Homo sapiens: one gene and its partners. The protein of the gene in region 3 interacts with the protein of the main gene of each other region in a pairwise test. Each region holds a gene or a part of one and is shown on either strand. Other genes may lie near its edges. The genes, in order: TMEM237, EBAG9, CFHR5, STOM, TMPRSS2, ARL13B and SLC10A1.

Region 1 (3,500 bases), on a different chromosome or scaffold from region 3:
TACTTTTGGATGCTACGTGCAGCATTTGGGGAAAAAAAAAAAAAAAAAAAAAAAAGACTGCTTCTCTAAGTTTTATGAACTATAATCTCAGCCATCCTGTCAGCTTCATGGCTGGCCGCTGATCTGCAGATGTTGGCTCTCCCTGTTCCGCTCTTTCTAGCATTGCTTGGTTTTCTGAATCTATCCCAGCTACTCACTCCCATCACTGTTCTGGGATATGAAACTCCCTGACAGGGGGTAAGAATGCAGGGCTCCTTCCGTCCATCATATGATGACTTATTTTAGAACTATAACTTGGCTGGGCGCAGTGGCTCATGCCTATAATCCCAACAATATGGGAGGCCAAGGCGGGTGGATCACCTGAGGTCAGAAGTTCAAGACCAGCCTGGCCAACATGGTGAAGCCCATTTCTACAAAAATACAAAAATTAGCCAGGCATGATGGCGGGTGCCTGTAATCCCAGCTACTCAGGAGGCTAAGACTGCAGAATCGCTTGAACCCAGGAGGCGGTGGCTGCAGTGAGCCGAGATAGTGCCATTGCACTCCAGCATGGGTGACACAGCGAGACTCTATCTCGAAAAAAAAAAAAACTATAACTTGAAGATCTAAAACAGATTTTTAAAAGGAAGATATTTCATTAAAAATGCAGGTGGACATAACAATAGTTACCCATTAACCAAAGGAATAAGTATTTTCTTGCCATATATTTGGAAACAAAAACAGAGCCTTCATTATTTGCAGTTGAAAAAGAATGGAAGGATAAGAAAAGTTGCTGTTATTGCCATTAACAATTGCTAATGTCATTGTGAATTCTTACCAGAGGCTACCATTAACAGAAGAAGGTGTGTAAAGGTGGATTCTGTCACTTGTCATTTGCTGACTCAGAGATAGTATAAGAGCAGTAAAGTACACTGAGAAAAAGACAAATGAAATTACTAATAATTTTTAACAACCTGGTTTATTTTGAATTTATAGATTAATATCGAAAATAATCTATACTTTCATGACTGATGATATAAAAGAAATTTATTTGACCAAATAAATATATTTCAATAGGCCAGACATCCTTATATAAATTTTTGAGAACAATAGGTGCAGAAGGATCTTTTGAGACGTTCACTATTTCATCATTAGAACTGACAAGAACCTAGAACATCTTTTTAAAAGTTAAATGACTTGCTCAAGGTCCTAAAACTAGTTTTATTAATATTCTCAAAACTTAGAACAAAATGCATTCCAAATGATCAGAAAGATATAAAATATTGTTTGTTATTAAAAGGCCATACCCGCTGAATCTGTTTAATGTCAAGTAGAAAATACAAAAGTTAAAAAGTAAGTAATATAGTACAATAAATTAAGCTTTTCAAAGTTATTTAGATGAACCTCAATTGAAAAAATAATTCTATCAATATTATGCCTTTTATGTTTCTAATTACAAATTCACTGAACATCTATAGGTAATGTTTATAAGGAGCAGTAATACAACTTTTAAAAAAAATTATATTTATCCTGGTTCAAAATTATGGTATAACTGAAGTATTACACAGTTATCATGTTAAACTGCTTACTCACAGAAAGATGCTAAAGCTGTAGGATCCAGGGCCAAAAAATTTCGGATTGCTACTGATATTTTAGCAAAGTCAATCCTAGAAAATATAAAAGTTTCTTGTCACAGCGCAGTTGTAAACTTAACAAAACTTTACTTTCTTGACTATAGTTTTTTCCTTCTCTAGTCTAATGCTAGCACATATACTATTACTAGGTTTTAAGTAGCTACAGTGTATACTTAACACGCATGACAAAATTATCTAATTTACAAAGGCCACATAAAACATCTAACTAGACTACTTTGGACAACATTCCTTTGGGGTTAAAACATCCTAAAGAAAATTAAACTTGATCTATAAAATTTCATTAGTTTCTACCTCTTTCTATTACCCATATCATTGGGCTCTAACTCGGTGGATTTTTTTTAAAAGGGGCTAAATTGTGTTCCCAAAAAGATATGTTGAACTCCTAACCTGGAGTACTTATGAATGTGACCTTATTTGGAAGCAGGGTCTTTGCAGATGTAATAAAGATAAGATAAGGTCATTAGGATGAACCCTAATCCAGTATGACTGCTGTCCTTATTAGAATAGACACAGATACAGAGATACACAGGGGGAAAGTGCTGCATGACGATAGAGGCAAATATTGGAATGATGCATCTACAGCCAAGGAATGCCAAGGACTGTCAGCAACCACTGAAGTGAGGGGAAGGTCATGAAACAGACTCTCCCTCAGAGCCCTGGAAAAAGGAATCAACCCTGGCCACATCCTGATTGCAGACTGCTCGCCTCCAGACCCATAAGAGAATAAATGTGCTGTTTTCAGCCAGCCAGTGTGTGGTACTTTGTTACAGCAGTGCTAGGAGACAAATACAAATGCTCTGAGTTTCACCTATACCTGATTTAGATGACATTTAGGAACTTCTGAGTTGACTATATTTGGATGAAATTTTGGACTTATGAATTGATGCTGGAATGGGTGAAGTCTTTTGGGAATATTTTGTTTACAATGGTCTCATCCCCTCAAAAAAGAACAGAAGTAGACTGGCCTTAAAACTTTTTGAAGTAACATTGATACTCTATAATTCTATTTTGAAAACTATCATGGTCAGTGACACATTTTGCTCAGCATTTCCTCCTGAAGAAGTTAGACAGATCTGGAGTCATAGGCATTACCTGTCAAAAGCTGAAATTGTACTCAGAGCCAAAAGCAAGTACAGAAGACTCTGGAATGGATACGCTAGGGTCTTGTATTGTTGCAGAAGGTTTGAGAGGTTGGATAGCTGATCTCCTGCTAGAACATATATCACAACAATATTCCACACAGCACAGCCAGCCAAGAATCCATGAGAAAAGAGACCAATCATCCTGAATGGAAAAGGGTTTGATTATTATACATGAATTACTAAAGTAAAAAGCTAAAACATGTTTAAAATCTCTTCATATACAAGAATAAAATTCAACATTTCATGACAAGTAAAAGCAAGCTCTTTCTTTTTAGTTACACTGATAGGTAGATCACTCAATTCCAATAGGATGTTTAAAAAATATACCTACCTACCATTTTAAGTTGTGATTTCATTAATAATACTGAACAACCAAGAGGTTATTTTTTTCTTTAATTACAGAACTCAGTTAACATTTATTTTAAGAAAAGTCCAACAAAAGCAGCCACCTGAAAGCCCGGTGCACTGTAAGTGCCACATCTCTGGTGGTCCAGGAAGGCTTCACGTCCATTGACACATCTATGTTTTCTGTGGTCTTTATCAACTCTGAACGATCAGCAGCCTGGAATCTCCCTAAGAACACATAACGTAATTACTAACAACTAGCGAGAGAGAACCCTGGTAGCCATTTTTTTTTTTAAATTCCATACTCAGGAAGCCGCAAACTAAGACTGAAATATTGCTGTTCTATCTGAAAATTCTCCTTGACTCAGTACCTATTTCA
Region 2 (3,500 bases), on a different chromosome or scaffold from region 3:
AGTCATAGGATTAAGTACAGGGATAAGAACTCACATCTTCTGACACTTCTTATTTAGATTATCTCCATTTTGTAAAACAATACTTCCATTGAACCACATCTTTTTCTGGGGATACCATTCAGAAAAGCTTGATATTGAGCTTGATAATCTCCTGTTATTATAGTAGTTACAAACAGCCAGTTTTTAAAGTGCATGATGAACACAGCTGAACAGAACACACGCTCCAAAAAGAAAATGGAAACTTAAGATACACCTTCCACCAAGTAAATTTCAGGATTAACATGTGACTAACTCTACCAAAGAGAAGAGTGGTGGGTATTTAATCAAATACTGCATGTTCTCACTTATAAGTGGGCGCTAAATGATGAGAACACATGAACACATAGAGGAGAACAATGCATACTGGGGCCTACCGGAAAGGCTGAGGTTAGACGGAGGGAGAGGATCAGGAAAAATAACTAATGGATACTAGGTTTAATACCTGGCTGATGAAATATCTGTACGACAAACCCCCTTGACACATGTTTACCTGTGTAACAAACCTGCACATCCTGCACATGTCCCCCTGAACTTAAGTTTAAAAAAAAAAAAAAAAGAGTGGTAGGTATTTACTAATCATACTTTGTGAAATACATACCTGTTCCTTACTCTTTCCGTAACTCCACTGACCCAGACTCACTCTCTCTATCTTTACTGATTGGTTAATGTAGGGAGTGGAGGTAGGAGTGGGATGATGAAACAGGAGAGAGCAGAGTAAACATACATTGGTCCTGGATCTGAAGGGTTAGGGTGTGAGAAAATCATTCAAGTATGCAACGTTGAGGAAGGAAGCTACAGGTCACAATTGGGCATGGAATAGGCAACATTAGGTTATATGCAGAAAAATCCAAAGTGGATTATCTATGTCTGGGGGAGCTCAATATTAACTACAGTGAGTGAAATGTATGTACAGTTCTCAGTCATAAACAGGAGTAGGCAGAGTTATGGATGACCAAAATTCAAGAAAGTAAAGAAACTATTTTTGGCAACATTTTGACTTTTGCTATCAATTTCTGAAGAATAGTTTTAAAAAATCTGTTTTTCATCACTCTGCTGATGTTCAATAAAAACTAATAATCTGAACTAAAAATGTCAAACCAGAAGAAAAAAGGGAGGTAGAGAAAAAATTATAAAGGGCTGGCTAGGTTATAAACAAGTAAGATAACGAAGTTTTGACCTGGTTACTAGCTGAAATAATATAAGGGCTGAGCATCCCAAATACAAAAATCCGAAATCTGAAATGCTCCAAAATCTGAAACTTTCTGAGGGCCTACCTGATGCTCAAAGGAAATTCTCATTGGAGCATTTCAGATTTTAGATTTTCATATTTGGGATGATGAACTAGCAGCAGAACACAAATATTCTAAACTCTCAAAAATTTCAAAATCTGAAACACTTCTGGTCCCAAGCATTTTGGAAAGGGATACCCAATCTGTATCAAAAACTAAAGTATAAAAGAGACAACTTACGAGATAGCTGCAGACAAAAATACATTTTACCTATCCAGATTCATGCTGGGAATTATTAAAGTACCAGAATCTTCATTCTTAGCAATACTGATCACAGTACTGGCATTATTTATAGTGGCAACAGGAAAAAAGCTCAGAGTTAGACAATACGGAATGTGGATACACTTTTAAAATGCTCAATGTCTATTCAGGGGCAGTAACAATGTACTGACACCTCCATTTCTCTTTGGCTCTACCTATGTACTTGCGGCATGAAGCATGTCTATTACGGATTAACAATCTCACTCTCCCAAGCTGTCCTTAAAGGGTAAAACATTAAGTTTTTAAGTACATTTTTTCATTTGTTTTGCTTAGGGGTTAAGAGGCTAGAATGAAAAAGAAAAGGTTTTTGTACAATATTAAGATACTTGTGAACTCATGGCTTGAACTCTACAGTGAGATTACTGTATTTAAAAAGGACAGACCCCTTCCTTTGTCTTTGTGGTTAATGGCACTAATAATTACTAGAATCCCCAAAATGTCTTAAAATACTCAGACATCTGTATCTATTATTTGTTTTTTAAAATAACACAGAATTTTAAAGAGATGATTTATCTTTTTTGATGATCCATGCAATATCCTAAGTGTTATAGTTCACAATTTAAAAAATATTCCCTTTATAAAAGATAAGCTATACTGATTAAATAAGAACTAAATTTTAAAAACTCTCACAATTTTACTGACTGAATTTTGAAATGTGACGTCCCCTAACCTGCAAAAAAAAAAAAAAAAAAAGGGCTTGATATATTTCAAAGGAAAAAAACAAAAACTTCAAACAAAATTCCCAGTTATTTAGCTGCACCCTCTGCTGGTTGTTCACAGTAACTGTAATTTATTGACAAAGCCAAGAAAGGAAAATACAAAAATGAAATCAGTTTTTTTGTTGAGTCAGATAAAGAATAATTTGTCTGCTATTCCTATGGTAAAAACAATCTCAATTTTAAAATAAAAAAATTTATATTGCTGTATCTTACTACACAATTTAAAAAATGTATGAATTCTTTAGATGCATTTAAATATCTGACTTTTAAAAAGCAGTAATCAGTCACTAGCTCTCCCTTAAGATAAATTTTCTCTTTACTCTTTGACCTAATGTAGCAGTACTAAGAAATATGTTTGCTGCTCACACACAAAAAAGAACAACCAATAAAAATGAACTTTAAAACTTCCAGAATAGTATTTTTTTGCAGAATGGGTAGTTCATCTAACACATAGGGCTTTCATGGACATCATTTAAGATATATGTACAAATGTAGAGTGTCACATAAGTTATTTTCACTCAAATGAGCAGTACTGGGCACTATGCTAGATCATGAGGAAATGGAAATAAAGTTGTAACTTCTGACCTAGAGGAATATCAAGCTTGTAATATGGTATGTATATGCATATAACCTTATATATATATATATAAAACATATATATAAAACCTTTTATATACATGTATATATAACACTCCATTTGCCATTAATAAAGTTATTTTGTTCCTATAGAGCTTAAAATTCTTGGTTTCTGTGAGGTTTTAATCATATAAAATAGTATCTGCAGTCTGAAATACAAAAAAAAAAGTCCTTATTATCTAAGGATCAAATGAAGAAAAATATAATATTTGGCAAAATAGGCTCCCTTGACTTGAAACACAGCAGGGAAGAAATCTAGTTCTTCTACTCAGGTTGCAATATAAATGCCACTCAAATACCTCAGAACTTCTTCTGCTTGCCAGGCTGCATCTTCTTCTTCTTCCCATGCATTGGTATTTTCCTGCCAGGTATCTAAGTCACCTAATTCAGACTACAATGAAAAGTAAAACAAAATTAAGAGAGTAAAAGCCATCCTTTCTCCACATAGCCGTTAAAAAGAGTATCTTTTAACACATAACTCAGAACCTGTCATTCTCCTATGTCTTCTCAGCTTCCTTACCCTGTCCTATACAAGGCACAGATGATTTTGCTTTTG
Region 3 (3,500 bases):
CAAAGCCTCCGAGAAATATGGGACTATGTGAAAAACCAAATCTACGTTTGATTGCTGTACCTGAAAGTGAGGGCGATAATGGAATCAAGTTGGAAAACACTCTTCAGGATATTATCCAGGGGAACTTCCTTAACCTAGCAAGGCAGGTCAACATTCAATTTCAAGAAATGCAGAGAACACCAAAAAAATACTCCTCGAGAAGAGCAGGACACATAATTGTCAGATTCACCAAGGTTGAAATGAAGGAAAATATGTTAATGGCAGCCAGAGAGAAAGGTTGGGTTACCCACAAAGGGAAGCCCATCAGACTAATAGTGGATCTCTCGGCAGAAACTCTACAAGCCAGAAGAGAGTGGGGGCCAATATTCGACATTCCTAAAGACAAGAATTTTCAACCCAGAATCTCATATCCAGCCAAACTAAGCTTCATAAGTGAAGAAGAATTAAAATCCTTTACAGACAAGCAAATGCTGAGAGATTTTGTCACCACCAGGTCTGCCTTACAAGAGCTCCTGAAGGAAGCACTAAACATGAAAAAGAACAACCGGTACCAGCCCCTGCAAAAACATGCCAAATTGTAAAGACCATCTATGCTAGGTAGAAACTGCATCAACTAACGGGCAAAATAACTAGCTAACATCACAATAACAGGATCAAATTCACACATAACAATATTAACCTTAAATGTAAATGGGCTAAGTGCTCCAATTAAAAGACACAGACTGGCAAATTGTATAAAGAGTCAAGACCCATCAGTGTGCTGTATTCCGGAGACCTATCTCACGTGCAGAGACACACATAGGCTCAAAATAAAGGGATGGAGGAATATCTACCAAGCAAATGGAAAGGAAAAAAAAAAGCAGGGGTTGTAATCCTAGCCTCTGATAAAACAGAATTTAAACCAACAAGGATGAAAAGAGACAAAGAAGGCCATTACATAATGGTAAAGGGATCAATTCAACAAGAAGAGCTAACTATCCGAAATATATATGCACCCAACAGGAGAACCCAGATTAATAAAGCCAGTCCTTAGAGACCTACGAAGAGACTTAGACTCCTGCACAATAATAATGGGAGACTTTAACACCCCACTGTCATTATTAGACAGATTAATGAGACAAAAGGTTAACAAGGTTATCCAGGACTTGAAATCAGCTCTGCACCAAGCGGACCTAATAGACATCTACAGAACTCTCCACTTCAAATCAACAGAATATACATTCTTCTCAGCATCACATAGCACTTATCCCAAAATTGACCACATAGTTGGAAGTAAAGCACTCCTCAGCAAATGTAAAAGAACAGAAATCACAACAAACTGTCTCTCATACCACAGTGCAAGCAAGTTAGAACCCAGGATTAAGAAACTCACTCAAAACCGCACCACTACATGGAAACTGAACACCCTGCTCCTGAATGACTACCAGGTAAATAACAAAATGAAGGCAGAAATAACGATGTTCTTTGAAACCAAGGAGAACAAAGCCACAACTTACCAGAATCTCTGGGACACATTTAAAGCAGTGTGTAGAGGGAAATTTATAGTACTAAATGACCACAAGAGAAAGAAGGAAAGATCTAAAGTCAACACTCTAAGATCACAATTGAAAGAACTAGAGAAGCAAGAGCAAACACATTCAAAAGCTAGCAGAAGGCAAGAAATAACTAAGATCAGAACAGAACTGAAGGAGATAGAGACAACAAAAGCCCTTCAGAAAATCAATGAATCCAGGAGCTGGTTTTTTGAAAAGATTAACAAAATAGACAGACTGCTAGCAAGACTAATAAAGAAGAAAAGAGAGATGAATCAAGCAGATGCAATAAAAAATGATAAAGGGGATATCACCACCGATCCCACAGAAATACAAACTACCATCAGAGAATACTATAAACACCTCTACGCAAATAAACTAGAAAATCTAGAAGAAATGGATAAATTCCTCGACACATACATCCTCCCAAGACTAAACCAAGAAGAAGTTGAATCTCTGAATAGACCAATAACAGGCTCTGAAATTGAGGCAATAATTAATTGCCTACCACCCAAAAAAGTTCAGGACCAGACAGATTCACAGCAGAATTCTACCAGAGGTTCAAAGAGGAGCTGGTCACATTCCTTCTGAAACTATTCCAATCAATAGAAAAAGAGTGAATACTCCCTAACTCATTTTATGAGGCCAGCATCATCCTGGTACCAAAGACTGGCAGAGACACAACAAAAAAAAGAGAATTTTAGACCCATATCCCTGATGAACATCGATGTGAAAATCCTCAATAAAATACTGGCAAACCAAATCCAGCAGCACATCAAAAAGCTTATCCACCACAATCAAGTTGGCTTCATCCTTGGGATGCAAGGCTGGTTCAACATATACAAACTAATAAATGTAATCCATCACATAAACAGAACCAATGACAAAAACACGTGATTATCTCAATAGATGCAGAAAAGGCCTTTGACAAAATTCAACAGCGCTTCATGCTAAAAACTCTCAGTAAACTAGGTATTGATGGAACATATGGCAAAATAATAAGAGCTACTCATGACAAACCCACAGCCAATATCATACTGAATGGGCAAAAACTGGAAGCATTCCCTTTGAAAATCAGCACAAGACAGGGATGCCCTCTCTTACCACTCCTATTCAACATAGTGTTGGAAGTTCTGGCCAGGGCAATCAGGCAGGAGAAAGAAATCAAGGGTATTCAATTAGGAAAAGAGGAAGTCAAATTGTTGCTGTTTGCAGATGACATGATTGTATATTTAGAAAACCCCATCGTCTCAGCCCAAAATCTCCTTAAGCTGATAAGCAACTTCAGCAAAGTCTCAGGATACAAAATCAATGTGCAAAAATCACAAGCATTCCTATACACCAATAACAGACAGACAGAGAGCCAAATCATGAGTGAACTCCCCTTCTCAATTACTTCAAAGAGAATAAAATACCTAGGAATCCTATTTACAAGGGATGTGAAGAATCTCTTCAAGGAGAACTACAAACCACTGCTCAGCGAAATAAAAGAGGACACAAACAAATGGAAGAACTTTCCATGCTCATGGAGAGGAAGAATCAATATCGTGAAAATGGCCATACTGCCCAAGGTAATTTATAGAGTCAATGCCATCCGCATCAAGTTACCACTAACTTTCTTCACAGAATAGGACAAAACTACTTTAAAGTTCATATGGAATCAAAAAAGGGGCTGCATTGCCAAGACAATCCTAAGCAAAAAGAACAAAGCTGGAGGCATCAGGCTACCTAACTTCAAACTATACTACAAGGCTATACTACAAGTAACCAAAACAGCATGGTACTGGTACCAAAACAGAGATATAGACCAATGGAACAGAACAGAGGCCTCAGAAATAACACCACACATCTACAACCATTTGATCTTTGACAAACCTGAGAAAAACAAGAAATGGGGAAAGGATTCCCTATTTAATAAATGGTGCTGGGAAAACTGCCTGGCCATATGTAGAAAGCTGAAACTGGATC
Region 4 (3,500 bases), on a different chromosome or scaffold from region 3:
TCGGCCTCCCAAAGTGCTGGGATTACAGGCGTGAGCCACGACGCCCAGCCTCCACTTTCTTTTCGTCGATATTTTCTTACTATTACATCCTTCAGGAAACCCTCTGACAGCCACCTGAATCACCTCCCCGCCCCATTCCTTTCTCACCTCCATCCTAACTGCGTGAGTTAACTCATTCTGTGTCTTCAAAATATTCTGAACAGATACTCTATATCTGTACTTACCACCTAATATTATAATTATGTGTTTGTCTGACTTTCCCACTAAACTTTAACCCTGAAAGCTGGGATTGGGTCTTACTCATTGTTATCATTTCAGTACAAAGCAGAGGGCCTAATAAATAGTAGATGCTTAATAAATGTTTGCTGAATAAAGTAATGAGTAATGTGGAAATATACTTGTGTTATGACATCACATAGATAAGGGAAAGTAGTACTTACACTTCAGGGCTGTATGAGGATTAGATGGGGAAATTCATGTAAAACAGCTGGTGTAGTGCCAAGCACATAGGTATTCAGCGAATGGTAAGGATGAAGATGGTGGTGATTATGCTAGTAACAGTTGTGAGAGTTGTATATTTTTTGTTTTCAACAGACAGCCCCAGTAAGGGCCTTGGACCTTGCGGATGGATTTTGGTGGCGTTCTCATTCTTATTCACCGTTATAACTTTCCCAATCTCAATATGGATGTGCATAAAGGTAAAGAACATTTCATTCACTTCTGGGAAGGGGTCAACTCCTACCTCCATAAACCTACTTCGTGTGTGCCTGTGTGTATGTGAGAAAGAAACAGACTGTCTCTCTCTCTTATAATTCTTATTTCTTCATCTTTCTTTGGAAAATTTATTCTTCTACCCACCTATTAAAATGGAACCTTAAAACTTCTTTTCAGCCATTGCCCTTCCCCGTGGGCTAAAGTAAGTTTCACCATCAAAAATTTCCTGGGGCCAGGGATGTGAGATGGTTCTGAGAGAACAAGTTCTTCAGAGTTAGGATGATAGGGTTTGACTGCTGGCTTTACTGTTTATTGTGTGACCTTTGCTGTTTCCTCACCTGTAAAATGGGAGAAAGTAACAGTACCTACTTCATAGGAGTGTTGCGAGGATTAAATGAATTATGTGTCTAAATGTACTTATCACAATGCCTGGCACGTCATAAATACCCTCAGTGCTCGTTATTTTTTCTACAAAGTTGTTAATACTTTGATATATGACTATTATTTACATATTTCTAAGAAGATAAAATATGCTCCAAGCATTTTCAGATCAATTTATTCTTAAGGGAATCAGAAGAAAAACTGTGAAGACTTCAGCTTTTTGTGTTTCTGAATTAACAATGCATGAGTAATTTTTTTTTTTTTTTTTGAGCCAGAGCCTTGCTCTGTCGCCCAGGCTGGAGTGCAGTGGCGCGATCTCGGCTCACTGCAACCTCCGCCTCCCAGGTTCAAGCGATTCTTCTGCCTCAGCCTCCCGTGTAGCTGGGATTATTATTATTATTATTATTTTTTTTTTTTTTTTTTTGAGACGGAGTCACCTTGTGGCCCAGGCTGGAGTGCAGTGGTGCGATCTCGGTTCAAGTGATTCTCCTGTCTCATCCTCCCTTGTAGCTTGGATTATAGGCACCCACCACCATACCCGGATAATTTTTGTATTTTTAGTAGAAACAGGGTTTCACCATGTTGGCCAGGCTGGTCTTGAACTCCTAACCTCCGTGATCTGCCCACCTCGGCCTTCCAAAATGCTGAAATTACAGGCGTGAGCCACCGTGCCTGGCCTGCATGAGTAACTGAATAACAATGTTAACAGCTGAGGAGTGAGGTTATGGATTTGTTTCTGTATACTATTCTGTCCTTCCTAAATTTATACAGTGAATATCTATTGCTTTTGTAATCAGTAAGAAAATAATAAATAAGCTTTGAGAAGGTAAACATTGGACATGTGATTTATAGATATGATCTGGTTCTAAAGAAAAAAGATGAGGCATCTAATCTGTTTAGAGCAGAAATATATATTTAAGAAGCCATGCATGTATATATTTGTACTCTTCATGTTAAATTATTATTCATGTTTTTATTCTAGATTATAAAAGAGTATGAAAGAGCCATCATCTTTAGATTGGGTCGCATTTTACAAGGAGGAGCCAAAGGACCTGGTCAGTACTGGGATTCTAGATTGTTTATCTGAAAACTAAAGTTCTTTTTATTTTTTTTATTTTTAGGTAGTTGTTTTTTTAAAGACAGGGTTTCATTCCGTCGCCCAGGCTGGAGTACAGTGGCATGCTCATGTCTCACTGCAGCCTTGAACTCCTGACCTCAAGCAATCATCCCACCCCAGCTTCCCAAAGCACTAGGATTACAGACGTGAGCCACCGTGCCCAGTCTAAAATTTTTTTATTGACGTGATTTCCCTTATGAGGGCCTCTTCTACTCTGTCTTAGATAAGAGTTCATGTAGCAGGAGTTGTATAACAATAGCAGTGGTTCTAGCCAATCTTTTGTTACCCTTTCCTTCCTACCCTTCCCCTCCCCTTCCCATTTGAGCTGATAAGATTACCACCTAGGCCAAGAACAGTACAGCTATACAAGTTTGAGCATGAGAATCTCTACCAAAGAAAGACTTTCAGTCATTCATTTGGCAAACTTCAATTAAGCTCCTACTGTGTTCCAGGTTCTGGGAATTCAAGGGAGACTAAAACACAGTCCCTACCCTCAAGGATCTTCCTATCTAGTGGTAGGAACCAACAAGGAAACAGATAGCTACAATCCTATGTGATAAGTATTATGATCAAGTACTCACAGAGAGCTGTGAGAAAAGAGAAAACCAGAGAAGTGTTACTGATCTGAACTAGTCGTAGGCTGAGTCAAGGCTTTCTGGAAGTTACATCTTGACTGAGTCTTGAGGTCTGAAAAGGTGTTAACCAACAGGAGGTGTTTGCGGCGGAAATAGCAACATACACAAAGCAACAAAGAGGAGAGTATTGCAGATTCAAGAAACTGCAAGTAGATCAGTCCAGCAAGAGTGCAGGGTGTGAAGAGAGAGGAAGTGGCTGAAGAGGGGAACAAAGGCGGGTTATGCAGGACCATGCGTGGGGGAGGGTTTGTATTTTAGGGGGGATTGCTCGGCTTGCAGCTTAGGAAATAGATTATAGGAGAGAAACTACAAAAAATAGAAAGATGGCCTGGGAAACGATTGCATTGGTCCCAGTGGGGCGGTGGGGAGAAGAGTGATAGCAACAGTAGATTAAGGAAATGAACTCCACAGACCTTAGTGGAGACAGTCAAATGTGGGAAGTAAGCAAGAGGAATCAAAGTTATCATTCCTGGCTTCTGGCTCATTCACGAAGATGAACTGGTGACTTTTCAGTTCACTAGGTTGATTTTCTTAAAACTGAATGGAGAAGTGAACTGATTAGGTTGCTGGTGTCTGTATAATGTGTGTATCTTTGTTGCAGGTTTGTTTTTTATTCTGCCATGCACTGACAGCTTCATCAAAGTGGACATGAG
Region 5 (3,500 bases), on a different chromosome or scaffold from region 3:
GACGGAGTCTCGCTCTGTCACCTAGGCTGAAGTGCAGTGGTCTGATCTCCACTCACTGCAGCCTCCGCCTCCCAGGTTCAAGTGATTCTCCTGCCTCAGCCTCCCGAGTAGCTGGGATTACAGGCGTCCACCACCCCGTCCAGTTAATTTTTCTGTTTTATTAGAGATGGGGTTTCACCATGTTGGCCAGGCTGGTCTTGAACTCCTGACCTCAGGTGATCCCCCTGCCTCGGTCTCCCAAAGTGTTGGAATTACAGGCGTGAGCCATTGCACCTGGCCTTGTCCCAACTTGTATCGTCCTAGCTGCTACCCAAGCCCCGCGCTCTCCACGGCTCCGGAGGTGGCAGCACAGTTCACTCTTCTCAAGGCACTGACCGCACACAAAGGGAGGCCACAAATCTATTCTTTTTCTGCTAAAAAGTGCTCTCTACACAAGAGAATTGAAAACAGGCATTGGGTCCAAAACTTGTACAAATGTTCACTGCAACCCTCTTAAAACAGCTGAAAGGCGAAAACACTCCAAACGCCCACCAACGGCTGGGTGAGCAGAATAGGATATGTCCAAGATACACAATGGAATACGATTCAGCCAGAAGAGGGAATGAAATTCAGACACAGGCTGCAACCTGGATGAGTGCTGAAGACCTTATGCTCAGTGAAAGGAGCCGGACATACTGCATGAGCCGACTCACATGGAATGCCACTTATATTGTGTGAGCCCACGTATTGCATGATCCCGCTCACATGGAATGCCTAGAGTAGGAAATCTATAGACACTAAGTAGATTAGTGGTTGCTTATGAGTAGGAGGGACGGGCTGGGAGGAGGGATATGGGGTGATAGTTCAAGGGCTTGGGGTTTCTTTATGAGCTGATGAAAATATGCTAAAATTGACTGTGGTGATAGTTGCACATATTCGTGAATATATAAAAGCCAGTGAATTATATATTTAAATTTTATGGTACATACATTACATATCAATAAGCTGTTTTATATAAAAAATTATATCTCAATAAGCTATTTCATATATATGTTTTATATATAAAAGCACTGAATTATATACTTGAATTTTATGGTACATAAATTAGATCTCAATAAGCTGTTTTTAAAAATATATAAGATAAGCCAGGCATGGTAGCTCACGCCTGTAATACCAGCACTTTGGGAGGCCAAGGCGGGCAGATCACCTGAGGTCAGGCGTTTGAGATCAGCCTGGCCAACATGGAGAAACCGATCTCTACTAAAATGCAAAAATTAGCCAAGTGTGGTGGCACGCATCTGTAATCCCACCTACTTGGGAGGCTGAGGCAGGGGAATTGCTTGAACCCAGGAGGTAAAGGTTGCAGTGAGCTGAGATCACACCACTCCACTCCAGCCTGGGTGACAGAGCAAAACTCCGTCTCAATAAATAAATAAATAAATAATAAGATAAAAGGTTTTTTTTTTTAAAGTGCTCTTTAAGAGAGCACTTTGAGCAACAAATTGTCCAGGAGACTCTAAATCAACATTCTGCTGAAATGATCTCAGCTCTTTTATTTAAAGAAACAAAACATTACAAACACCGTTGAAGTCGCTCCCTATTCCCAATCTCTTCTCTCCCTCCCTAGAGGTAACCACCATCCAGAGTTTTGGGGACTTTTTGCTGGGCAGGATAATACATGGGGTGGGCGTATTCACAGAACAGAATCCCATGCAGCTTAAGGGTTAAGCAGAGCATCATGAACAGGAAGAAGCTTGAAAACAGCGCTGTGGGAAAGAGAGCAAGTGATAAATGATGCGTTCAAGTATCACGTTATTCATGCAAAGCTGAAAGCATGGAAACAATGCTGTGTGGTTTGGGAGAAATACACATGGGCTTAAAGTATAAAGTGAGGACCTGGCTATGCTCTAGCCTCTCTTCTTACTTCCTACGAGTGGCCCTGACTCACTGGACAGTCTGGTACCTGTGGGCTTGTTCCCCCATGAAATGACTTGGGTCTGATTATTGTCTAATGCCTCTGTGGTGAGTGATTCCACATCCTATCTGTGAGTCGGTCACAGGTTACATGAATGGATAAACATTGTGCTACATCTGGACAACGGAATATTATTTGGTGCTAAAAAGAAATGAGCTATCAAGCCATGAAAAGGCATGGAGGAAACTTGAATGCATATTACTAAGTAAAGGAAGCCAACAAAGTGAAGGAAGGTGTATGTGGTGAAGGCTACATACTCCATGATTCCAACGCTACAACATCCTGAAAAGACCAAAACTTCGGAGGCACTAAGAAGATCAGATAGCTGGGGTGAGTGGGGAGAGAGAAACAGGTGCAGCAAAAGAGGTTTTAAGGCAGGAGAACTACTCTGGACGATACTATCATTGTGGCTGTACAGCATTATGCATTTGTCAAATCCCACAGAACTGTACAAGAGAAAGGGTGAAGTCCAGGACTTCAGTTCATCATAATGTATGCATCAGGTTCATCGGTGTTAATGAACGCACAGCACTGATGTGGGATGTTCATAACAGGGCAACTGTGTGCTGGGGAGGAGTACAAGGAGCTCGCTGCCCTGTCTGTTTCATTTTCTGTAAACCTAAAACCGCTCTAAAATATAAAGTCTGTTCACTTTTTTAAAAGTAACTGAAATGAATACACTTCTTCTTCTTCTTCTTTTTTTTTCTTGTTCCCAGGCTGGAGTGCAATGGCATGATCTCAGCTCACCGCAACCTCCACCTCCTGGGTTCAAGAGATTCTCCTGACTCAGCCTCATGAGTAGCTGGGATTACAGGCATGCACCACCACGCCGGCTAATTTTGTATTTTTAGTAGAGACGGGGTTTCTCCATGTTGGTCAGGCTGGTCTCGAACTCCTGACCTCAGGCGATCCCCACCCCCTCCGCCCCCCACCTCGGCCTCCCAAAGTGCGGGGATTACAGGCGTGAGCCAGCACACCCGGCTCAAAATACACTTCTATGATTAAAAACAAAACTGCCACTGTGGCTCAAAGGGAGACACTTCATTCTTGGCTTGTGGGTAATTTTAGGGATTTTCTTTCCCTTCCAGCTATCTGCACCCGGAAGAGACGGCAGCTGATAAGCCAGAGAGCTGGAAAAGGTCTCAAGCTAGTCCTTTTTTTTTTTTTTTTAAATATTAGGATTTTTTTTCTCAGCTTTGTCAAAGTATAGTTGACAAATAAAAATTTTACATGTAGGCCTGGTGCTGTGGTTCATGCCTGTAATCTCAGCACTTTGGAAGGGCAAGGCGGGAGGATCACTTGAGCCCAGAGTTCGAGACCAACCCCATCTCCACCAAAAAATATAAATATATATGCATTAGCCTGGCATGATGGTACATGCCTGTGGCCCCAGCTTTTCAGGAGGCTGAGGGGGAAGGATGGATTGAGCCCAGGAGGTCGAGGCTGCAATGAGCCATGACTGAGCCACTGCACTCCAGACTGGGTGACAGAAGGAGACCTTGTCTCAAAAAAACCCAATTGTACATGTTTAATGTGTACAGCGTGA
Region 6 (3,500 bases), on a different chromosome or scaffold from region 3:
TTCCTAGTTTTGTAAGAGAAGACTTAGCCCTTAAGAAAAGAATTAATAAGAATAATTACTATTTGGCTGGGCGCGGTGGCTCACACCTGTAATCCCAGCACTTTGGGAGGCAGAGGCAGGCAGATCACAGGGTCAGGAGATCGAGACCATCCTGGCTAATAGGGTGAAACCCCGTCTCTACTAAAAATACAAAAAATTAGCCAGGCCTGGTGGCGGGCGCCTGTAGTCCCAGCTACTCAGGAGGCTGAGGCAGGAGAATGGCGTGAACCCGGGAGGTGGAGCTTGCAGTGAGCCGAGATGGTGCCAATGCACTCCAGCCTGGGCGAGAATGCAAGACTCCGACTCAAAAAAAAAAAAAAAAAAAAAGAATAATTACTATTTGTTAACACCAGTAAAGAGGACAGCATTGATTTTGGAGGGTAATTAATAAGTTGATCAGTAATACCCTTGGCACATGGAAGAATAATTGCACTGTTGATATTAAGAAGTCACTCATAGGAAATGTCATTTTTATCAGCATTTTTTTAATTGAAATGATTAGTCTTTACATGGGAGGAAGCAGCCTCTTACCTGCATAAGGATTTTTGAAATGCTCTCAGTAATTCAAAACCATGTCCAGATGTTTAAATTACTACATGTAATAGCCTTATACCTATTGCAGTTTTCTTTAACATGGTTCAGCACTTTCTCAAAGGAAATTTCAATTATTTTTCCTCAAACGATAGAAAACAAAATGAACAGGAGCAGGCTGAACTCGATGGAACCAGTGGTCTGGCTGAGTTGGACCCAGAACCAACGAATCCTTTCCAGCCAATAGCATCTGTAATCATTGAGGTATGAATGATGGCAAATGTAATTTTTGTATCTTAAGTTATAAGTTGGAACTTGGAAAAGAAGGTGGAAAGTTGGGAAAGGAGGCAGGGAAACAGATGTGTTTCTTCTGAGAGATTATTTCTATAAGAAATTAAACATGAGAGACTGATTAAAGGTTTACTGCTTTTTCTTACTCTTAAATTACCTTTGAATCTAGTGTGAAAGGGGGAATATGACTTCAGAATTAAATGACAATAAATAAATTTGACTGTAGCAATTATTATAGTTGCTGTGTTGACAAATCTATTCTGTCATTTATTTCATATAGTAATAACATATTTACTCTTATTTACATTTTCTGTGTTTCTGTATTGCTGTTACTGTCCATCTGCAATATTTACTTAGAATGCATTAGGGTACATAAACAATTTTCTATTTTTCCAGGATACTTAAGGATGTTTGAAACTGCAATAAATTCTCCTATATCTGAATATCATTTATTTCCATTTTAAATCAGAAATTTTACCAACATTAATTTGTAGATTTTAATTATGAAGACGTTAAGGGGTTGTGTGTGTGCGCGTCTGTGTTTTTGTTTTCATTTTCTGCTCATGTCCAGAGTTTGCATTGGCTCTGCTTTTATGGCTGGCAGCAGCGATGCCTCTTCTGAGGCATTGCTTCCTAAACCTTAGGCTGACTTCCTGGTCCTACCTGGAAGGTTTTTTTTTTTTTTTGTCTCCATTCTATCAGATATTATATTTGTCAAGTTTTGTTTTATGTTCTTTTAAAAATATTGAGAGAGAAGAGGTCAAGTTGTACTTTTTACTTTGAAACAACAATTATTCTCTGTGTATAATAAGGCTTGCTTTATAAATAATGGCTAATTATTTTATAGTACCATGGGTATAAATTGTGTAGAAGGCTCTAGTGCTTCTCCCAGCACCGTATTTCCCACAATGTATAGAAGTGAATAATAGTGGTGTACGACATAGTATATATCACATATAGAAAGTTCCCAAATTAATAAGTGGCATGGGGAAAGTACACTTAACGCTTTGAAACTACAATTTCAAGAAGATGGCCAGTAAAGAAATAAAAGCAAATTAGCTATAGTTTTTTTTTTTTAACCATACAGATTTTCTCTTTTTTTCCCCACAAAACTTTTTTAGCATGTTTCTTGGTACAGAAGCACCTAACATTTTTTTTTATTATTACTGCAGATAATTAAAATGGTGAGATATTGGAAGGTATTGGTTCCAGAAGAGACAGACAGATCAATGGAACGAATATTAATAAACCTATTTATGTATGAGCATTTTAGTACAAGATAAAGATAACATTTCAAATCTGAGAGAAAAAAATAATAGAACAACTTAATAACCATTTAGAAAAAGGAAAATTATTGAATATTGTATACCCAGTTAAATTCCAAAAGTATCAAAAACTTAAATACGTTTTAAAAAGTGAAAGTCTTCAAGTTACTAGTAGATAATATAGATAAGTCTTTATATGTGCTTGGAGGAGGAAAAAATTTCAAAGCAGGACAAGCAAGCCACAAATCATAAAGGAAAAAGGTGGATAGATCTTATACTACCCAATTTTTAAAGAGCTATTCTACAAAGTTAAAAAGCAAAAATGAAAAGAAGTAAACTCTAGTGAGAAATAGAACACATAGTCTTATGTGACTCTGTGACTAGTCCTAGTGACACGTATGCACAAAAGAACTCTTACAAATTACTATGAAAATAATGAGAATCTAATAGAAAAGTGGGCATTGGGTTACCAAAGGCAGTTTCCTAAAAAAAAATTAAAAATGTCAATAAGTGGCCAGGCACGGTGGCTCACGCCTGTAATCCCAGCACTTTGGGAGGCCGAGGTGGTTGGAGTTCAAGACCAGCCTGGCCAAGACGGTGAAACCCTGTCTCTGCTAAAAATACAAAAAATTAGCCAGGCGTGGCACGAACCTATAATCCCAGCTACTCCGGAGGCTGAGGCAGAGAATTGCTTAAACCTGGAGGGGTGGAGGTTGCAGTGAGCCGAGATCGTGCCACTGCACTCCAGCCTGGGCGACAGAGCGAGACTCCATCTCAAAAAAAATAAAATAAAATAATTCAATAATAGTTCATTTTTGCTGGCAATAAAAATTTTAACTTAAACTCAAATGAAAATAACACTAAGTTAAATAAAAATATGTATTAATACGGCAGAGATGTAAAAGGTCAATCATGATATGTGGTATTGAATATGATGTAGAAAAAAATCACTCTCCCAACCCTTTGCCTGAGGTTCATTGATTCATTTTTTCTGAAGGGAAGTTTGTGACTATATGTGACATTTTTAAATTTGCCTACCCACTGACTCAACAGTTCTACTGTTAGCAATTTAATCTAAAAAAATTAAAAAAAAGCTATTAGGATGATTCTGTTTTTTAAAATAGTGAAAAATTGGAAATACTTTGTTCATTGATACAGAATTGGTATGCTATAAACATTCAAAATAATAATTGATGAAAATAATTGTATCTAACATTTATGTAGCATTTACTATGTGTAAGGCACTGTTCTGAGCACTTTATATATTCATTGGCATGGAAAGAAATGTATATTCTTCAATAAAAACTTCAATTCTTTTTTGTTTAAACAACAAATACATAAGTATATATAGATACATATATTTATGTATGTTTC
Region 7 (3,500 bases), on a different chromosome or scaffold from region 3:
GGATGCAACCTTTCAAAGTGCATGTGCACTCCATGCACTTTGTACTTTCCAGTGTGCATTTTAGAGAATTGCGTCCTCCAAAATGATAAACAGGTATGTGTAAATTTAAGACTGTCCCTTTTATCTCCTGAGTAAAGAAATACTTAACTTTTCTCAAACTTACCATGTTATTTTGTAATAGTTACATGTGTTGGTTCATTTTTTGGTTCATTCACATGTGTTGCATTTTATATTTCCTAGTAACATTTTAAAAAAGTAAAATATGTATAGCAAAGTTTGCCATTTTAATCACTTTTGAGTGTACAGTTCAGTGGCATTAAGTACATTCATAATGTCCTAACGACATTTTAACATTTATATTGCTCAAATTTCAGCTGCACAGCTTTGTGTTTCTGTTTTTAATACTTGTTGCAACTGATATGATCATATAAAACATCACCTATACCAATTAGTGGTCCTATCCCAGCATAGGAAGGACTTTCACACATCTCTTGAATAACCATGTGCTTCAAGTTTTATTAAAAGACTTATTAGCTAATGAACTTCTCAGTTTACCTTTGCATTTTTAGTTGATTTCCCCTTTTAGATTTCTGTCTTTCGAATTTGTCCTTTACCCAACAGTCAAATAATTTTTAATCTCTATCAAGAGTGGAGTGGATAATGTAGGAGACATTGAGTTACAGGAATTGTCCACGAATCCAGAAGCCCTCTTCTTCTGTATAGGCATTCACTCTTATTCTCTCACTCATGTTCTCTGACTCTTGGGGACTGCACAGTTGTGGTTATGAGCACATAATTTGATATGATCCTGGTGGGAAAGCTGCCTCTGCTAGTCTCCAGGTGTGTAAGCTCTGGGGAGTCACTCAACCTGAGTGAGGTTGACGGCATAGGACCTGGCATATAAGAACCGCTCACTAAACTGTAACTCCTGTTATTACTCAAAGGGGAGGAATTAACATTCTAGAGGTTCCTGTCACTCTCACTGCTGCCATCTCTGGAAATTTATCCTGTCTACAACCCCTGTCTCCTGCTGAGACAAGTGGCCCCGGGTAGTTGCTTCTCCATAGGCTACCACATTTTGTACCACCTGACTTCATTGCCCTGCTCACAACTGGGATGAGTGCTCATTCATGGGCAGCCAATCCATTGGCTTACACATGAGATGACATGTCCACAGTCTACCCACAAAGGTGGCCCGCACAGGCTGGTGAGTGGTAGAAATAATCAGATTCTCTCATTTAGGAAGTTTGCAGGATTACAGAGAGGGAAGCAATAGCAGGGACAAGTGTCAGAACAGAGGTCTGGGAGCAATAGCCACAAGTTGGCAGAAGTTGTAAGACAAAGGAGAGTTAGGGGTCAGTTCAGCAGTAGCAGCAGGTGTGGGAAATGCATGAGTAGAGTGTTGAGTCAATGAAATGGTGGGATCCTTATTAAAGAGTGGTGGATGGCTTATGGTGAAAGTGGCTCCTGGACCATGTCATTCTCAGATTCATCACCCTTTTAGCCACATAGCCTTTGGATAAACCCTTGCATGGGTAAGTTAAAAATTACTTGAATTGCCTTTTAAAATGAGCATGCCTGAAATTGTATCTTGGTATATCTAAATGTGACCTTCCACCAGCGAATGCAACTGGTTGAACCCGGTGTGAGCAGATACCTGCTGCCAGAGCTAGTTATTGAAAGTTGGGTTATTTTGATTTGCAAGGTCCAAGGAGGGTTATGTGTGCGTAAGAGGCTAGGACAATCATTTGTTCGTTTTCCAGTTTGGCACTCACTATATTATTTATGGGACAGGGTGACGAAGGATGAGCATAGTCCTCGAAGAGCCATAGAAGCAAGGAAACCTTAGCTTTTGCAGCTTGACCCACATGTTAGTCTCTGCATCCTCACAGGAGTGATTCCAGTTTTGGAATATAGGAAGATCAGTGTAGCTGTTGACTTTGTGGTGGTTTAACCCTGGAGGTTTAGCCAGGGGCAAAATGGGTCCAGGGCATGCCTGGGTTTTTTAGATTACCTTTTATGTAGTCCCTTATTACTAGTCTCTGTTTTTCCAGCCAAGGTATTTCTTAGCCCTTTTAATGTTCTCTGGCTTCATTTTGACTTCATTTCGTCTGTGGCATTGAGTAGTGAATGTGCAACACAACAGGAACAGACTGGTTGAAATAATCCTGGCTCTGCCAAGTAACTTTTCCGGGCCTCGGTTACTCTATCTGCAAATTGGGAATAAGGCAGGAGACTGAACTTCATCTTAAAGGCTTCTCCAGCTTTAAGATCTGAGATTCTCGGCAAGGTGTGGTGGCTCACGCCTGTAATCCCAGCACTTCGGGAGGCCAAGGCGGGGAGATCACAAGGTCGGGAGATCGGGACCATCCTGGCTAACACGGTGAAACCCCGTCTTTACTAAAAAATACAAAAAATTATCCGGGTATGGTGGCGGGCGCCTGTAGTCCCAGCTACTCAGGAGGCTGAGGCAGGAGAATGGTGTGAACTCGGGAGGTGGAGCTTGCAGTGAGCCGAGCTCGCGCCACTGCACTCCAACCTGGGCGACAGAGTGAGACTCCGTCTCGAAAAAAAAAAAAAAAAAGGGTCTGAGATTCTGCTTTTTGCAACCTCAGAGAAACACTTTTAAAGCTACTCTGAGGTAGAAAAGAGACATGTTCTCACATCAGTTGTCATTAGCACTATGACTTGGTATTCTGTTTCCCAGTTTTCCCACCTATAAAATGGAGGAGGGCAGAGTAGCATTAAATGATAGCAGTGGTCACTTCACATTTTAATATTCTTTATATTTTATATGCATTTCTTTAAGATCGTTTATGGGTGTATAGGATTTTTTAAAAAAGCAATCTTATGCACCCCACAAACTATCTTAAAAAAATGAAATGATGCACACAAACATGTTTCTCTGTGTATGTTGTTTTTCTGCTGGTGTGTGGAAGAGCAGCAGACAGGACTTGCCCTTCATTCCTTTATTTATTCTCAGGCATTAGCTATGGGGGCACTGTGATAGGTGCTGTGGATTCAGTGTTAATTAAGACAGCCTTATGGTCTTGCTTCTTGATAAATGAGTGGGGAATAAAAATGAACAGATGTTCTTAATGCAGTGTAATAATTGCTACAGGGGTTAGCTGGAGTGTTGGGTGTTATGGGAGTGAATAGGACAAGCATCTTACTCAGGCTTAGGAGGTTAAGGAAGGCTTCCTGGGGGAGGCGCTATTTGTGTTGAGACTTAAAGGATGAGTGGGAGTGATCCAGTGAAAGATGGTGAGTGGGGTGAGAATTGGGAAGAAGAGTGTTCCAGGTGAAGAGAAGGGCACGTGCAAAGAGAAAAGAGCTGAGACTGGTGAGGTCAGTTGAAACCAAATCAAGAAGTGCCACATTAAGGAGTTTAAACTATCCTAGGGGGAAGGAGTCAATGAGAGGCTTTAAGCAGTGGAGTGACATGATAGAGTTTGTACTTCACATCTTCACCCTCAGGTTAGAACTGGGTGAGGAGGTTG

The links.
Region 1: the proteins of CFHR5 (region 3) and TMEM237 interact in binary tests that used the Homo sapiens proteins (3 or more experiments, as listed by UniProt).
Region 2: the proteins of CFHR5 (region 3) and EBAG9 interact in binary tests that used the Homo sapiens proteins (3 or more experiments, as listed by UniProt).
Region 4: the proteins of CFHR5 (region 3) and STOM interact in binary tests that used the Homo sapiens proteins (3 or more experiments, as listed by UniProt).
Region 5: the proteins of CFHR5 (region 3) and TMPRSS2 interact in binary tests that used the Homo sapiens proteins (3 or more experiments, as listed by UniProt).
Region 6: the proteins of CFHR5 (region 3) and ARL13B interact in binary tests that used the Homo sapiens proteins (3 or more experiments, as listed by UniProt).
Region 7: the proteins of CFHR5 (region 3) and SLC10A1 interact in binary tests that used the Homo sapiens proteins (3 or more experiments, as listed by UniProt).

Annotation. Positions count from the first base shown.
Region 1 is NC_000002.12:201,626,504-201,630,003, forward strand, and holds part of TMEM237 (transmembrane protein 237), read right to left. Parts: intron 3,350-3,500; coding exon 3,226-3,349; intron 2,919-3,225; coding exon 2,727-2,918; intron 1,647-2,726; coding exon 1,573-1,646; intron 912-1,572; coding exon 818-911; intron 1-817. UniProt on the Homo sapiens protein: Component of the transition zone in primary cilia. Required for ciliogenesis.
Region 2 is NC_000008.11:109,560,673-109,564,172, reverse strand, and holds part of EBAG9 (receptor-binding cancer antigen expressed on SiSo cells), read right to left. Parts: intron 3,336-3,500; coding exon 3,244-3,335; intron 1-3,243. UniProt on the Homo sapiens protein: May participate in suppression of cell proliferation and induces apoptotic cell death through activation of interleukin-1-beta converting enzyme (ICE)-like proteases.
Region 3 is NC_000001.11:196,987,556-196,991,055, reverse strand, and holds part of CFHR5 (complement factor H-related protein 5 precursor), read right to left. Parts: intron 1-3,500. UniProt on the Homo sapiens protein: Involved in complement regulation. The dimerized forms have avidity for tissue-bound complement fragments and efficiently compete with the physiological complement inhibitor CFH.
Region 4 is NC_000009.12:121,353,251-121,356,750, reverse strand, and holds part of STOM (stomatin), read left to right. Parts: intron 1-594; coding exon 595-698; intron 699-2,077; coding exon 2,078-2,150; intron 2,151-3,448; coding exon 3,449-3,500. UniProt on the Homo sapiens protein: Regulates ion channel activity and transmembrane ion transport. Regulates ASIC2 and ASIC3 channel activity.
Region 5 is NC_000021.9:41,480,659-41,484,158, forward strand, and holds part of TMPRSS2 (transmembrane protease serine 2), read right to left. Parts: intron 1-3,500. UniProt on the Homo sapiens protein: Plasma membrane-anchored serine protease that cleaves at arginine residues. Participates in proteolytic cascades of relevance for the normal physiologic function of the prostate.
Region 6 is NC_000003.12:94,039,155-94,042,654, forward strand, and holds part of ARL13B (ADP-ribosylation factor-like protein 13B), read left to right. Parts: intron 1-725; coding exon 726-834; intron 835-3,500. UniProt on the Homo sapiens protein: Cilium-specific protein required to control the microtubule-based, ciliary axoneme structure. May act by maintaining the association between IFT subcomplexes A and B. Binds GTP but is not able to hydrolyze fit; the GTPase activity remains unclear.
Region 7 is NC_000014.9:69,780,242-69,783,741, forward strand, and holds part of SLC10A1 (hepatic sodium/bile acid cotransporter), read right to left. Parts: intron 1-3,500. UniProt on the Homo sapiens protein: As a major transporter of conjugated bile salts from plasma into the hepatocyte, it plays a key role in the enterohepatic circulation of bile salts necessary for the solubilization and absorption of dietary fat and fat-soluble vitamins.